2 separate regions of the Homo sapiens genome follow, and region 1 is linked to region 2. Evidence: fine-mapped expression QTL. Tissue or cell type: whole blood. Region 2 holds a variant in brackets; the other region holds the start of a gene. All regions are shown on one strand. Distances are from middle to middle. Region 1 holds the start of PYROXD2 (pyridine nucleotide-disulphide oxidoreductase domain 2). Region 2 overlaps PYROXD2 (pyridine nucleotide-disulphide oxidoreductase domain 2).

What was found. PIP is the estimated chance that this variant, and not a neighbour inherited with it, causes the effect.
Region 1: PYROXD2 starts here. The variant in region 2 is fine-mapped to the expression of PYROXD2 in whole blood (INTERVAL, PIP above 0.99).

The regions. Positions count from the first base shown.
Region 1 is chr10:98,411,772-98,420,043 of GRCh38, forward strand. PYROXD2 (pyridine nucleotide-disulphide oxidoreductase domain 2) reads right to left here and starts at 3,411. Exons shown (of 16, transcript NM_032709.3): 1 at 3,238-3,411. The coding sequence starts at 3,364. HPS1 (HPS1 biogenesis of lysosomal organelles complex 3 subunit 1) reads right to left here. Exons shown (of 20, transcript NM_000195.5): 19 at 6,404-6,486; 20 at 4,427-5,955. The coding sequence ends at 5,793.
Region 2 is chr10:98,382,950-98,391,273 of GRCh38, forward strand. PYROXD2 (pyridine nucleotide-disulphide oxidoreductase domain 2) reads right to left here. Exons shown (of 16, transcript NM_032709.3): 11 at 8,061-8,133; 12 at 7,649-7,805; 13 at 5,405-5,559; 14 at 4,252-4,358; 15 at 1,998-2,118; 16 at 619-919. The coding sequence ends at 849. Among named protein-coding and RNA genes, the nearest start is that of MIR1287, 8.2 kb to the right of the region's middle. The variant G/GGAAGGAAGGA (reference allele first, on the strand shown) is at 3,378.

The DNA.
Region 1 (8,272 bases), 29 kb after region 2:
GTTTCACAGAACCAAAAGTTTCATGAGCTAAAATTAACTCTTACCATATGAGAAGCATGTGAGAAGCTAGTTGGTTACAGTTCATCTTAAAAAGTGCTGGTTGACATACTCTTTATTTGTATGGGCTTTTGAAAATGTTCATAAGAAAGTTTAAACAATCCGCCAGTGGGACTCATGAACAGATGGAATCTGTCTCTCAAAGACATGCAGCAAACTAAAGGCAGACAGTCCTGGGCTCAGCCCAGCCTCTGCTATTTGCCAGGGCATGACCTCAGAGAGTCATCAGCTGCCCTGAGCCTTGAGTTTCTTCACATGGGGAACAGAGGGTGCCAGGGACCCTGCAGTGTGGCAAGGATGAGATAAATGGGAGCTATTTGTCTTTTAATTGGTGCTGATGATCGATCTTGGAAAACTCATAGTCTTCCAGGCAACTGGGTCCAGTTCAATCATGGCAGACCTCAAATGAGTAAGGTCAAGGATCCAAAGCACAAGACCCCCTCCCAGTGACCACCCTCAAGTCCTGGCTGAGCCCTCCTTGGCTTCTGGTGACACCTCTGTTCCCTTGAAGAGGACTTCAGCTGCGGGCTCTGCTAATCCCCAGACCTGCCTCAGGGGCCCCATAGCAGGCGCCTGGGCCCTTGAGGAGCTGCTCTGGGCGTGGGCTCTGCAGCTGCCTGCATCAGGCAGTGTTGGTTGGGTGGATGTGCTGACCTCTGGGAGACACCTCCCGCCCTCAGAATGCTCGTCACCAGGTATGGGGCCAGGAATCTCCATTTTAACAAGCCCCCTCAGTCACTCTCAGGCACATTTAGTCAAATGACTAAATGAGATTCATCTTCAAGGTGGCGGCCAGGTGCCAGTGTGCCTTCAGGGACTCAGAGGTAACCCTTGTCTCAGAAGATGCCGTTCTGTTCCTCACTGAGGCCCAAGATGCCTTTAAACCAGGCTTTATGGTATGTTTAGCAACTAAAGAAATCATGTCAAGGAAAAGCTCACACACTGAGACTCACTCGCACTTGTAGGCAAGTCACCAAGGCAGCTGGTGACCTAAAGTCAACCTTCCCCATTAGGAGACAGCAGGGTGAGCTGTGGCTGAGCACGGAAGGAGGCAGGGGGCTTCTCTGAGGCTAAGTGAGGTGCTGGAGATGGCTCCCACCAGCCCGGGGAGTTTGTGAGCCGGCTGTCAAACAGCCATTGATATAAACTAAATTATATAAGCTTACAATTAAATAAATTAAAAACAAAGGTAATAAATACTCAAAACACACTACCTCCTATTTGTTTTACTACATTTGACTGTTGCCCATGCCCTGGCAGTCACTGGCCTCTATGTACATATCTGCATGGTGGACACACTATACAATGATGTGCTACTGGGTATCTCTCCTAAATCACATTGAGCAACCTCATCTTGGTAACAGAAAAGGCTATGGTGGGAGTATTTACACCACTGTCATCAGCAAATATTACACAGAAGGGCTGAATTTATTTTTTGTGGTCAGGCTTAAGAAAGTGATGGGAAAATGCTAATAATGCAGATTAAACCTAACAGTGTTAGCTGTTATAGCATGAATAAATAGCACAAAAATTGAAGGAAATATTCTAGTATTAGAACAATATTATCTTATTTGAGTAACATCATTCCTGTCATTTAAAGAAGGAGGCCGGGCGCAGTGGCTCACACCTGTAATCCCAGCCCTTTGGGAGGCTGAGGCAGGTGGATCACAAGGCCAGGAGTTTGAGATCAGCCTCGCCAACATGGTGAAACCCCGTCTCTACTAAAAATACAAAAATTAGCCGGGCGTGGTGGTGGGCGCCTGTAGTCCCAGCTACTCGGGAGGCTGAGGCAAGAGAATCGCTTGAACCCAGGAGGCGGAGGTTGCAGTGAGCCGAGATTGCGCCGCTGCACTCCAGCCTGGGCAACAGAGCAAGACTCCATCTCAATAAATGAATAAATAAATAAAATAAAAATAAATTTTAAAAAATAAAGGAGTAAGGTTGGGACATAAATCTTTGTTGTTTCATTTGTTTCACGATCATCCTACTCTTTACAGAAAATATGGAGCACCGTTCTCTTTGGAGCTACCCTCATTTGTCATTTGCAACTATAGGTTGGCTACTGAGTTTGGCAAAAATCAAAGAAAGCCTTTGGTAAGAATCACTCGGGTAGACTGCATTTAAATTGAGAGTATTGTATCTTTATTTGTAAAATTGTGTGCAGTGTATCTTTTATTTCAATATTTAAAATAAGCATGTGTATATGTGTATATATATGTACGTAACACATATACATATATATACACATATATGTGTGTATATATACATATATATACATGTACACACACACATACATCACACATTTTTCCCTGGAGAGGTGAGTGTTGAGTATCTACCAGCTCGCAACTGCTCTAGTACATATGAAAATGAAGGCATGCCCTCAAAGCTGCATGTTGAGTGCCGTCTGCTTTCGGTCCCGTCATTATCTCTGTATAGACCCAGTTGGCAATCATGCATTTGGGGCCCTCTGCAAGTGTGAAAGGAAGGCACTAAGGAAAGACCACCTGGTCCTGGGCCTGCCTCTTCCCCTAGCACCCAGTAGACTGTGATACTCTGAGCCCAGGGGTTGGCAAAGTGTGGCAGATCACTGCAGATCCCCAAATGTCCCAGAGCTGCAAGGCAATGGGGTCCATCTCCCTCTGCAGACACGCAGTAGGAACTCTGGGACTCAGTTCTGTTTTATCCTAACTGGCCTTTATGAAATGACTGCAGTTTCTTGTGACGAGGGGTGGCCTCAGTGGTAAGGTAGTGGTGACCAGAACTCAGGGCACTGAGGGGGCGGGGTGCTGGATTTCACTTGTCTGTTGGCCCAGGGCTCTTTCCAACCCTTACAAACCATAGGCTGAGAATGTGGTGGAAACTAGGTCACTTTGCAAGAGATATAGGGAAACCCCTGAGCTCACCTAGTCTTCCTGTCATTCTCCATGGGAAGATCCAAGCCCAGAGAAGGCAAGCATTTGCCCCAGGCCACACAGCAGAGCCAGCACCGGAATCCCAGGTGCCTGCCTGCCAGATGGAAGGGCTTTCCATTGCAGCCCCTGCTAGCGTATAAACTTCTGGCTGGGTTATGCCAGAGGAGAGAGCAGTGGGGCTTGGCTCCCCCTCCCCCTCCCCACCAAGCTCTGAGCAGGGCTGTCTTCCCGCCCCTCAGCTCTGGCCCGGCCTGCTTTACCACTTTACCTGCTCCTATCACCACCGCATCATACTCAGGCTTCAGACCTCCCCTGGCTTCCGTGTTATCTCGTCTCCACGCCGGGAAGGGAGAGGCGGCCACAGCCTTGCAGAGACCTCGGCCACTTGCAGCCATTTCTGCCCCAGGCTGGGCCTTGCTAGGCAGGGAGTTTGCTAGCGATTGGCTTTTGTGCTGCCCTAGGCACGGGGTGGAGCAGGGAGGAAGCAGGAAGAGGAGGAGCTGCAGTCCCCCTCCAGGCCCCCTCCACCATGCATTCTTGGCCACAGGCCAGCCTCCTGCTGCCCTGGGGCTGTGCTGGGCCGTCGGGAGTGTTGCCTATTAACCAGGCGGTGTCACCTCCAGGATGCAGGGGATAATGGCAAAACTGACAATCCACTGGGGTTCCTATGTCAGGCTGGCATTGTGCTGAACCCTGTAGGCAAAACTCCCCATTTTACAGATGAGGGCGCTGAGGCTGCGGGGTTAGGGAATGAGTGGTGGAGGCAGAGTGGAGCTCGAAAGGGCCCTCTCCTCCCCTGTGCATCTACCTTCTCAGTCAGAACTGAAACGCCTGGGATGGCAAGTGCTCGTGTCAGACTCTGCTCCAACTCCATGCTGAGTCTGCCAGTGCAGAGTGGTGATGCCTCTACGCCCACAGGAGGCGCCCAGGGCGGCCATCTAGCGTCACCACGACCAGGGCCTTCAGACACCGCAGAGGCAGCTGTGTCTGTCGCTGAGGAGCACTGGAGTCCTCTCCTAAATGCTCAAACACAAACCCACAACGAGGGCTTAGGGGCAAGTTCGCTGTCTGTAATTCTCTGGTGTTTTAGTTTTGAAGGCCTGGCCAGTTCTCCTCTTTTGGCACCTTGCCCATTTTCCAAGAATCCCCAAGGATTCGAGGTCACATCTGTAAATACCTCCAGCTAAAGTTCTTTCTGACCCTCCCTTAGGCCTGCCTTGAATTAGGAGCCCCTTTGTTCTCTGCCCATTACTTAGCAGAGTGTTCCCCTAGGAGGAAAAAACCCCTTGGAGCGGAGAGTTCCTGCACTGCTCTGATATCGCAGTGTGACGGAAACCTGCTATTGGTAACGAATCTCAGAACTGGGAGAGTATGTGGAGATGATCCTAAGAGGGGGTTCCGAGGACCCCTCCACACACCATGGACAGTTACCCCGCATGTGAGCATCTCTGCTAAGATCTGATTCAGGATGTTCACTCCTGTGTTATTTATTATATAGAAAGATCAAGGGGACTGGTTAAACTAGACATATCACATCCAGCCGCTGCTAAAAACTAAAGGGAAATAGTAGGTGACAAAAGCAGGGGTCCTGAACAGTGGTGGGCTCAGGGGATTGGAGTTTTTTCCTTTATGTTTTTCTGTATTTTCCACAATCCACGCTTTTCATTGCCATTCCATCAGATGATGTTAAGGAGGAACACAGATCCAGTCACCTGAGGGGATACTTCCTCACTGCCACCTTCTCAGGGTTTAGACCAACATGTGGGTTCTAGTTCCCCCAGCCCCAAAGCTGTTCCCTGCAAGGAAGAGATCAGTCTTTGAGCAAATTTTGGCTCAAGACTAAAGACACAGAAGGCGAGGCTCCTGCATGCACAGCACACGGCCATCTGATCCTGTGCTGCAGTGGACGCTGACTTTCGCCACGCCGTCCTCTCTGGCCCAGCACCGGCCTCCTGGCCTCAGAGGAGCAGACACTCCCAGTCCCAGGGCTCTCAGGGTCTCTTGTCCCTGGGTCCATTCTGGGACAGGAACTTCTCGGTTGGAAGAGAGGGGCTGTACCCCTCGGGTGGTGGTTCTCAATCCAGGGCGCACCACAGAAGCTTTGAAAGACATCAAAGGCTGGGCTCCACGGCCGCCAAGGGAATCCAAATCTCTGGGCCAGGGCCAGGGGCTTGAGAACCCCAGCCCTAGGGCAGACGCCAGCCAAGCATGAAGGGGCTGGGACTTAGCAAGGGCTTATCAGCACTGACAGAAGGGTCTAGAAGCACTAGCATGTTGGGCTTCAGTGATAACAATGACCAACATTTATTGAGCACCTACCACACTGGGTAATCCTCACACCACCCTGGGACGGAGGTGCCATCGCTTTAAACGTGGGGAATAGAAGAAACTTGCCAGGAGGTGCAGAGAGGAAGTGGCAGCGCTGGAATTCAAACCCAGGCAAAGGAGCACCTTTTACCTGGGGTAGGAGAGAGCTTGCTGGGTGGGCTTCCTCCACGCAGGGAACAGCAGAGATGGGGCTTCCTCCCCATCTCCCAGGATAAAGGCAGAGGCAGCTCTGGAAGAGGAGCTGTTGCCACCGTTGTTTTACAAACAGGACCCCTGGGCTTCCCTCTTCCTCCAGAGAGAAGGATCTGGGGCCTTGCTCAGTACCTGACATGGAGGGTGGTCTAGGTGGGGTTTTAGAAGCCCTGGGGCCACCCTGGGCACTCTGCCCTATCCTCAGGATGGCCACTGCAGACAGGAGGCTCTCGTCATGGGGAACAGTGGCAAGCAAGGGTGGCTGGAGGACAGGATGCAAAGGCAGACTGCGGCCACCTTGGCCTAGAGCAGGGGGATACGGGAGGCCTCCCAGAGGCGCCGGGCCAGCTGGCCGGCCTGCTGCACCAGCAGGTCAGTGGGGATGACAGACAGGTGCAGGGCCAGCAGCTCGTAGCACCTGACAGCCTCGGTTGGGCGGTTCTTGCTGTAGTAGCGCAGGAGCTTCCTGGGGAGGAAGGGGAGGATGGGATTCAGGAGTGAGGCTGTGGCACTCCTCCAGCGCCAGAGGCCTCTCTGGGCCCTCGCAAGCAAATGCCCATGCCCTCGGTCATCTCACTAGGCCCCTGCATGTGGGCCTTGACAACCGCTCCGGTTCCTCACTGACCTAACAGTGGCATCCTGGCTACGAGGTAGCAGTGGGGATGTTCTGGGCCGGGCACAGACGTTCCCCGTGCTGCCAAGACCATGCCAGCAGGAAGGTGGTAGGAACACAGATGTACCCTCCACACCCGTCCTCCCTCGCTGCACACAGGGCCAGCCGGGAAGGTGTTCCCAGCGTGGATTTCTGGGTCTGAGGTAGGGCACTGCTGAAGCAGAAGCTGCTCCCGGCAGAGGCGAGCACTTATCACCCAAATGGGGGCATCTGTCCCCAGTGGCTCCCAACGCAGCGTCACCTGTAGTAGTCTCCTCCCAGCATGCCGATAGGCACTGAGTCGTCGGAGAGGACGGGCACCTCGATCATCTGGAGTTTGTACCCCTGAGGAGGGAGGACAGGGAGGCAGTGGGTGTGGGGGTAGTGCAAGGGCCTGAGTCAGACGCACCGGGCTTGCGGCCTGGCTTGGCTCTGTCATGTGCGCTGGGTGCTTGGGAAAATGCCTGGACCTTGTTTTTTCATCTTTGAAGTCAGAATGACAACAGTCACCTTATGAACATTAGAGAAAAAGTATACAAAGCTTCAAGGGCCGGCAGGGTAGCTCTCATTACCGTCAATACCTGGACCTGTACAGGCCACAAACACACGCTCAGGAGGGCACCCTGCAGGGCTGTCATACAGGTCTTGAAGAGCAGAGCATTCACAAAAGGCCCAAGCCTCTGCTCTGAAAGAATTGGGAATTCCCAGGGTGGGATAAGGTGGGGAAGGGAATTAAGATCTGCTGGACGTGCCGTGTGTGCCAGGCATGAACATGGCACTTAGCTGATGCTTGCCTGGGCACCGTGGCCTGCCCTGCAGGGGGAGTGGACTCCCTAGTGTGCAGGGCTGCCCCCACGGCACCGGCTGGGCTGTGTGGCTGGCATTCAAACCTGGCCTCTCCAGCCCACAGCTCTGCCTCACTTTATCACCCCACGGGGCCACCCAAGCACACAGACTCCTGTCCCTCCCTAGAAGTGAAGGTAAAGGTCACAGGAATTTTCTAGCACTTCTGTTGTACACACGTCCTGGGCACTTCTGAGGGCACGGAGGAAAGCTGGGAGCCTGCAGGCCGGGGGAGCAGAGCTTGGGCTCCGGCTTCCTCACTTACAGCCTCGGTGGCCCTGGCCATGGCGTCTGATCTCCGGATCATTGTGTCTCCATCCGTACAACGGGGTCAGGAATCCCTGCCCCAGCCACTTTACAGGGCTGTGAGGGGGTAACTGAGAGAACAGTGGTGGAGAGCCCCAGTAACCGCCCTGCCCTATGGAAAGGGATGGCTGTCACCCTCAGTGAACAAAGAGTGCAGGGTGGGGGCAGGGGAAGGCACAGGAGTGCAGGGACCCAGAGACCAAGGGCTGCGAGGGAGGAGGAACACTCCTGAGAGCTGGAACAACCACTCCTGAGAGCTGGAACAACCACTTATGGTGACAAGCGAGATGCAAATAAAAGAGAAACAGGAGGAAAGCGAAGAAAGGGAAAAGACAGAGAGGAGGGAGAGACAGGAGGAGAGGAGTCCCAGCCACTGCACCCCTCACAGCCCTGTGCAGTGGCTGGGGCAGGGATCCCTGACCCCGTTGTATGGATGGAGACACAATGATAGTAAGCTCCCCCCACTGGACCCTACTCTGCAGTAACAGTGAGGCCCAGAAGAAGCAGTGCAGGGCCTGGAGGCCAGGGCCCCGAGCCACACCACCAGTGTCTCCTCAGGCAGCCTGGCTCACTGCTTCAAGCAGGGGCCTATGCTCTTGAGTTCAGGGGCCTATGCCACAGGGATGACCATGTGCCACACTTGGCATGTGACGCTGGCGACATGGAAGCACTAGCGACAAAGTGTGTGGTCTGAGTCGCATTTCTCACAGTGGGGCATGTGCCTTTCTGCTCACATGTGTGCCTGGATGCCACGTGGACAATGGCAAGAGTTTGCCAGACAGCTGGGCAGAGGGATCACAAAGCAGTTAAACGCCCATGTGAAAATGTGACCTCTGAACTCTGGCTCCCAACCTGCTGGGCTTACCAGCAACAAGAAGAGAAGATGAGACAGACAGACAACAATTCAGAAGAAAGGAATCCAAGAGTTACAGAGCGGGAAGTGTGTGTGGCCCGTCCTGGCCCAGGGACTCAGCCTCACCTA
Region 2 (8,324 bases):
AGGATTCTGTGGCTTGAGATGCCCAGCATTGTTCAGGACCGTGGCCTTTGAGGGTGACTCTGTGGATCATGGGGAAATTGGGTCCATTCTTATAGCTTGCCAGGAATGTGACAGCGGTTGACTGGGCCCCACCTGGGCAGTCCTCCAATTGTTGGTAGTGGGGGTCCCAGGCAAGGACAGGGGATGCTTGGATCAGACTCTTCCACTGGTTAGATGGACTGTTTTTTGTTTTGTTTTGTTTTGAGATGGAGTCTCTGTCGCCCAGGCTGGAGTGCAGTGGCACAATCTCGGCTCACTGCAACCTCTACCTCCTGGGTTCAAGTGATTCTCTTGCCTCAGCCTCCCAAGCAGCTGGGATTACAGGCGCCCGCCACCATGCCTGTCTAATTTTTGTACTTTTAGTAGAGATGAGGTTTCACCATGTTGGCCAGGCTGGTCTTGAATTCCTGACCTCAAAGTGATTTGCCTGCCTGAACTTCCCGAAGTCCTGGGATTACAGGCATGAGTCACCATGCCTGGCCTTTAAATGGACTGCTTCTTAGCTGATGTAAGAATTATGAGTACCCCAGAGAAGTCTATCCCACCAACTAACACAGAGAAAAAATACAAGCAAAATAATCTGTATGAAATATTAGTTTTAATAAAACAGAACCAGTCCATGTATGGAGGCATGGGCATAAGGTCAACTTGCACTAAATGTAACTCGTACGTTTTTTCTAAAATAATTTCTTGAGCATTGTGGTGGCCTTATGTACTAACCCGAAGCTGAACTTCCTGGGAAGCTGATCCAATGGAGCACTTGGAATTCAGGGGTGGAGTCTTCTTCCTGGGTCAGAGCTGGTTCAGGGTCACATGCTCTTGAGGTCCCTAAAGGCCACATGTGCTGCATTTCGCCCAGCAGCTCCCATCACACCTCCTCCTGGAAGGGAATCTCCTATGAACCAAAGCTCCGCTCAAAAACCTGCCAGGGTGGGGGTGGGGACAGGGCTTACAGAGATCCAGCAACAAAGCAGAGTGGGGCTGGTTAGAGGGGTCCGGGGGCATGGGCACTGGAATCACCTAAGACAGCCGCTCAATAGATTCTGGCTCCCTCCAGGCTTCCTGCACCAAAGGTCTGGGGAGGGGCCAGGTCCACAGCCCACAGTCTCAACGGCTGAGGGTGGACGTGCTGGATGGGCACACGCTTAGTAAGTGAAGTTAAAATTTCAGAATAAGGGGCTGGGGGGAGGGGGAAGATGTGTAAGCCCAGACTCTTTCCAGGGTACCAAGTCTACACAGCTGAGAGAAAGTGTGCATAGCAAATAGCCTCAGCCAGCTCCGTTAGGCTTGGAATGCGCACAAGAAAGAATTGTAAAGTTGAAGAAGTTAACTTTATCCATCCTTCCTGGTCTAAAATATGGATGGAGGCCTCTAATCCCAGCACTTTGGGAAGCTGAGTGGAGAGGATCACTTCAGCGCGGGAGTTCGAGACCAGCCCGGGCAACCTAACAAAACCCATCTCCACAAAAGAATAAAAAATTAGCCAGGCATGGTGGCACACACCTGTAGTCCCACCTACTCCAGAGGCCGAGGCAGGAGGATCACTTGAGCCCAGGAGGTTGAGGCTGCAGTGAGCTGTGATCATACCACTGCACCTCCAGCCTAGGCGATAGCGTGAAGCCCTGTCTAAATATATATACGGATGGGGAATTTAGGGACATGGGTCTCTCACAACCCCACATTGGAATGTGGTGAGATGCCTCCACCAGGATGCATCCCCAGGCCTCCTGAAGGGGAGGTGTGAGCTCAACTGTGGGCTGTGGTCAGCCTGGTGGAGGCAGCGGCTGTGTGCTCACCTGTGCATGGATAATTCTGAACACAGGGCAGCTTATGTTGGGAGTTCCCTGCTCCCCTCCCTCTCTGCCACCTTCATTGCTTAACTTCCTCCTTCTCCAAGTCTCTGGCCTCCAGTGAGCCCTCCCAGTCCCCACAGGGTAGTGGGACTCCAGGTCACTCACCAGGATGAGCCCCACTTCCACAGAGATACAGGCCCTGGAGAGGGCAGCGGTAGCCAGAATGCAGGGGCACGGGGCGGGCGAAGTAGAGCTGGTCCAGGGACATGGCGCAGTGGAATATGTTCTGCAGAGGCAGGGCCACAGTCATCAGCACAGGAGAGTTACAGCCTTTCCTGCTCTGGCTGGGTTTCTTCCCCTCCCCTGTTCTTCAGCAAATGTTCTTCTCCTTCCAGGATATTTTCTTGGGTTTTAAAATGCAGAAAGGGAAGGAGATGAGACGGAATGGGCACATGCCCTGGGGCTGGGAGTGAAGTTTTCCAGAGGCTTTTTGAGGAAGAAAGCAGGGTGGGGAACACGAACTGAACGGGAAGGAAAAGAGGGTTTTGCTCTCTACTCTGCATCCCTCTCCCTCTGTTGGAAAAACAGAATTGTCTGACTTATTGTGGCTGTTGGCATGCGTCTCTGCGAGAACTCCCTTCTCTGGCCAAGGCATCCACCTGAGCCCGGACCCCGGTGTCCAAGCTCCAGCAGGATCACTGTGAATGGCAGACAAGGGGCAACGGAGCCCGAGCACGGTTCTGCCCCCCTGGCTTGGGTGAGACCAGCCCCAGGCTGAGAAGGGAGGCAGCATGGGACAAGCGAAGGTCAGACTCAGGGGGCAGGTCTGGACAAGAAGCCTGACGTCTGTTGGGCATCCTCACAGGAGTGCTCCCCCACTGCCCTCTTCACCTTTCCCCAAACTGAGGCCATCCTCTTCCCTCGAGTCTGCTCCTCCCCATCCTCCTGCATAAGTGAATGACACCACCTTCCTCCCCCTGGCCTCTGTGCCTACCCTTCACATCACCTCCACCCTGACTCCTATGTGCACACTGTCACCAAGGCTTCTCAAGTCTGCCCGCCCCATGCCTGCTGTACCCAGCCATTCCCTTCCTTCCCGCTGCCTGGCCTTCTTTCCTCTATACCTGGACCAGTGCTGTTCAGTGAACATGTAATGGGAGCTACATATGTAGTTTTTGATTTATTAGTAGCTACATTTAAAAAGTAAAAGCAGAGCCGGTTGTGGTGGCCCATGCCTGCAATCCCAGCACTTTGGGAGGCCAAGGTGGGAGGATCACTTGAGCCCCAGAGTTTGAGACCAGCCTAGACAACACAGGGAGACTCATCTCTACAAAAAAAAAAAAAAATTAGCCAGGTGTGGTGGTGCATGCCTGTAGGCCCAGCTACTCAGGAGGCTGAGGTGGGAGGATGGATGGCTTCAGCCCCAGAGGTCGAGGCTGCAGTGAGCCGTGATTGCACTACTGCACTCCAGCCTGGGTGATAGAACAGGACCTATCTCTAGAAGGAAGAGAGGGAGGGAGGGAGGGAGGAAACAAGGAAGGGAGG[G/GGAAGGAAGGA]AGGAAGGAAGGAAGGAAGGAAGGAAGGAAGGAAGGAAGGGCAAGCTGATGAAACTAATGTCAATAATATATTTTATTTAGCCCAATATATCCAAAATATTATAATTTCAACATGTAATCAATATATAACTTATTGATGAGATATTTTACATTTTTTTCTATACTGTGTGCATTCTACACTTGCAGCACATCTCACTTTGGCCTCAGATCTTTCTTTTGCTTTTTTTTTAAATTTTCTTTCTAGAGATAGGGTCTCATTCTGTTGCCCAGGCTGAAGTGTAATGACGCATCACAGCTCACTGCAGTCTCAAACTCCTGGGCTCAAGCGATCATCCTGTTTCAGCTTCCTGGGTAGCTGGAACCACAGGTACGCACCACCACACCTGGCGGGGTTTTTGTTTTTGTAGAGATGGGGTCTCACTACGTTGCCTAGGGTGGTCTCTGATCTTTCAAGTGCTCAGTAGCTGCAATGAGGCGATTGAACCTGGCCTCCTATCTGGTCTCCCTGTCTCCAATCTCTAGTTTTTGATAAATTGACAAGTCTGAGGATGTGCTGCTGCCTTGAGAAGGGGGTGCTCTCTCTCAAGAAAGTCAGATGGCAGAGCCAGCATAGTTGTCAAGGCAGAGGGCCACAATCCTGGTGACCTTCTCAGTGGGGGCTGTCCTGCCTGTGTTTCTGAGCCCCCACTAGGGATCCCCCATTCCCTCGGTTTGACCGCTTCTCTGCCCTCTCTCAGCCGGGGTCCCTGCCACTGTCCTCCCTTCCTGATGAAAGCTGAGTATGGAGGGACAAGATAAAGCAGAGAGGTCATAGCCAGGAAGTGAGGGTGCAGAGGGAAGGCTATGGTGAGAGACCCCCTAGGCTTATACATACCCCTCCAGGAAGCCCGAAGATTCTCTCCAAATCTGGTGGTGTGAGGATGTCTCTGCCAACCACAGAGTCCTTGAAGCCAGGGGCATAGACCTCGATGCAATCAAACACTGGGGTGCCAAAAACAGAGAAATGAGATGGTGTTAGGAAGAAGAGGAGGCACTATGGGTGTACAACTTGGCAAATTTACTAACAGTCATTAAATTACACACAGAAATGGGCTTATTTTATCATATGCAAATTATACCTCAATAGGTGAAAAACAAAAATCAGTCCACAAGCAAATGATTAATTCATCCCAAAGATGCATGGGTAGGCCAGTCCAGTCCCCAGTTTTCCCCACTTCCCTACCCCAACCTTAAACACGAAGCTGCTGATCTCCTTTTGCATATGCAGCTTTTTTCACCTCTTCACTTTTCTCAAGCTGTTTTTTTTTTTTTTTTTTTTTTTTTTGAGACGGAGTCTCACTCTGTCACCCAGGCTGGAGTGCAGTGGCGCAATCTCAGCTCACTGCAACCTCCGCCTCTGGGTTCAAACGATTCTCCTGCCTCAGCCTCCTGAGCAGCTAAGATTACAGGCATGTGCCACCACACCCTGCTAATTTTTTTATGTTTTTAGTAGCTACGGGGTTTCACCATGTTGGTCAGGCTGGTCTTGAACTCCTGACCTCGGGTGATCCGCCTGCCTCGGCCTCCCGAAGTGCTGGAATTACAGGCATGAGCCCCCACGCCTGGCCTGATCAAGCTGTTTCTCTTGCTTGGAATGCCCTTTGCTGCCTGGCCAGCTCCTAGTCATCCTTGGAAACCCAGCTTGACCATCCCTTCCTTTGAAAGCCTTCCTTGTCTCTCTGGCTCATGCGTCTCCTTTGGTTCGTGCAGTCAGCTGTGCTGTAATAAAAGGTTTCTTAATTAGTCTCCTCCATCCCTTGCTAGACTGTGAGCAACTGGAGGGCAGGAACTGTGTCTTCTTGACTTTCTTAGCCCAGTTCCTGACCCCTGCAGTCAACTATGTTGACTTGAGGTTCCCTTGACTATTTCCTCCCTTTGGAATGGCACCTGCAGTTGTCAATCCTGAATGGGGCAGTGAGGAGGAGCAGGCCCAGTTGGGTCGCATGCCCGGCTGTGGCTCTGGAGGCAGAACGTGCAGCTGTCTTTACCTCTGTCTGCATAAGCGTCTCTCTCCTGCTCGTCCCAGGCCTTGCCTCCAGCCAGCGTATAGGGCATGTACTGAGTGAAGAGGGAGACTACATGGCAGCCAGGGGGAGCCAGGGTGGGGTCCAGCGAGGAAGGGATGCAGAGCTCAATCACAGGCCTGTGCGGGCAGGGAGGAGACGGCAGGTCTAAAGAGCAGCAGTGCGGAGGGTAGGGCATCCGAGATGACTTGGGACACAGTGGAGGCCCTGAGATGACACCAATTCTGGGCGATTGTCGCTCTACAGCCACAGTGGTTGTCCACCTGCACGGGCTTAGCGGCTGCTAGCGTGGTCCAGAGCACCTGTGAGGAGCTCGCCTGACCCCAGACCCCCGAATGCATGGCCTGTCCTTGCCTGCCTTCATCACACGCTGTGCTCTAACCACAGCTCCCAAACGCAAATGTCTCGAAGGTCCACACAGACAGTGGGAGTGTGGAAAGGGGCCAGGCCTAAGACAGCAGGCGCCCAAGCAGCCAGATTTCAGCCAGGCTTTAGTGGCCTGACTGTCTTTTCCAGAGCAGACCAATGGAAGACAGAGCTGCTAGGGCTGCCCCGAGCCCCAGCAGAGCTGTGACCTGCTTCCCACCCCACCACCTTTGCCTGCCACACCTTTTCTACCTGGAGCATGTTCTCCCTCTGATCTCCAAATATGAGTCTCCTTCAAGGCCACGGGAAATGCCCCTTCTCCCTGCGTCCCTCAGCTGCAATGTTCTCGCTGAACTCGGATGTCCACCAGGGATCTCAAACATCCCCTGTTCAAACCCCAATGCCTGATTAGCCTCTAAAATCTGCTCCACCCCCACCGCCTCTTCCTCTTTTCAGTAAATGGAGGCATCATTTCACAGTCGCTCCTTTTTTTGACCCACATCCCACTCCCTATCCAACAGAAAGTCCTGTTGGCTTCACCTTCAAAACATACCCAGTCTTCCAACACTTCTCATCACTTCCCCTGCCCCCACCCTTGTCCAAGCCACTGTCCTCTCTCCCTTGGATTCTGCAACAGTAACCCATTGCAACAGATGCCTTAACTTTTTCTGCATACAGTGTCCAGGTTGGTCTTTTTAAAGCATAAGGCAGGCTCTGCACAAACTTTCCTGGAGTAAGAGCCAGGGCACTTGACAAGACCCAGCACCATCCGAGACCCTTCATTCCCAGGTGCTCTCTCTCCAGCCACTCTGGCCTCGTCCCTGTGCCTCCTATACAGCAGCACACTCCTGCCCCAGGGCCTTTGCACCTGACCTTCCCTCTGTCTGGACGTTTTTTCCCCAGATACCCATAAGATCTGTATTCTCACTTCCTTCCGGTCTCCGCTCAAGTGCCACGTTATTAGAGAAGCCTTTCCTCCCCTTCCCTGCCTATTTTTCTCCACAGTGCTCATCATCAGTGCTTACTTGTTGATTGTCTTCCTCTCATGGATAGAGAGTCAACGACCTGAGACTTTCTTGGCTTTGCTTGCTGATCTGTGCCCACTCACTGAACCAAGCCTGGCACAGAATAGAGACCCCAGAATATTTATAAATGGATGAATGAACTTTGCCCTATACCCTTCTTTCCAGGCGCACATCTTCTTTACCACATGCTATAAATATTTGTGTACCTGTCCTATCATAAGCTTTGTGTCAGTTTCATGCCCCTGCCCCGCTAATTCTCCCAGCCCATACCCAGTACAGAGTCCAGCACTGAGTAGGTTTTCAACAGTGTGTGCTGGACAGCGGACAGGATGGAAAGGCACTTGCTCCTATAGCGCCCCTGCCTGTTCCAGAAGAATGGAAATACAGCTGCAGTGGGAGGTGGGAAATGCTTTTAGAAGTTTTGCAAGAAGGCAGATTATCAGAAAAAGAAAGGCTACGGAGCAGGGGACTCGGTGAGTGCGTGCTCTCTGACGGGCTCTGAATGAGAGAACTTCCTTTGCTCTCCCAGAACACATTTTCTCCTCTTCTTCCCCAGCCCCAGCACTTTCCTGGGCAGTGCTCTGCCCCTCTGCCCCTTCTGCTAACCTGAGCCGCTCTTCACCCCTTACCTGCCCTCATCCTCAGATTTTTCACCTGGGATGCACTTCCTGTCCTTAGGAGTATGGATTTTGGCAGATCCTAAGTCACTGTGAAGGTTGAACACCAGGCCTGATCCCTGCTGTGGGTGGCATGGACAGCCCCGCCTCCCAGGCCCATGTGGAAGAACATCAGGGAACATAAAGTCCAGGGCCCCTACCTGTGGGAAGGCAGGCCATCCATGGCATCTTCAAAGGCCTGATGAAGGAGGAGGGTGTCTTCACAGTTCAGGTGGATGGAGCATTGGTGATGGGGCAGCGGCTGGCCCCTGGGAGCATTGGGGGCCGCCAGGAAGCTGGGCAGCCTGTCTACGGCCACTGAGGGACCAAAGAGGAGGGTCAGGTCTTAGCCCCACAAGGTCCTCCCTCTACAGCCAGCACCCTGCTACCCTCAGTGGCGGACGGGAGTAGGAAAGTATGAGCAAGTGTTTCACCTTCTGACCAGGCTGCAGGGGGACACAGGCTGGAGGTCCGGGAATGGAGATGATGACTGAGTTCAGCTGCCCCCAGCCTGGAGGTTTCTCACTCAGATGGGTCAAAGGAGACAGTGCTGCAATGTGGTGTGCCTCTTACCATTGATCTTGGTGACAGGCGACCGGGTGTCCAGCTGAGAGATTCTCTCCAGGAACTCCTCAGGAAGCCACTCCTGGAAGGAGAAGGCTCCATGAAAGGCCTCAGATGTCCAAGGCCCCAAGGAAGCTGCCTTCTTTCTTTGCTCAGGAAGATCCCTCAGTCGCTCCCTCCGGAAATCCTCTTCATCCTTCAAAGCTCAGCCAAAACCACCTCCCCTGTGAAGCCTTCCTAGATCCCCTCCCACTCAGCTCTAACCACTTCCTC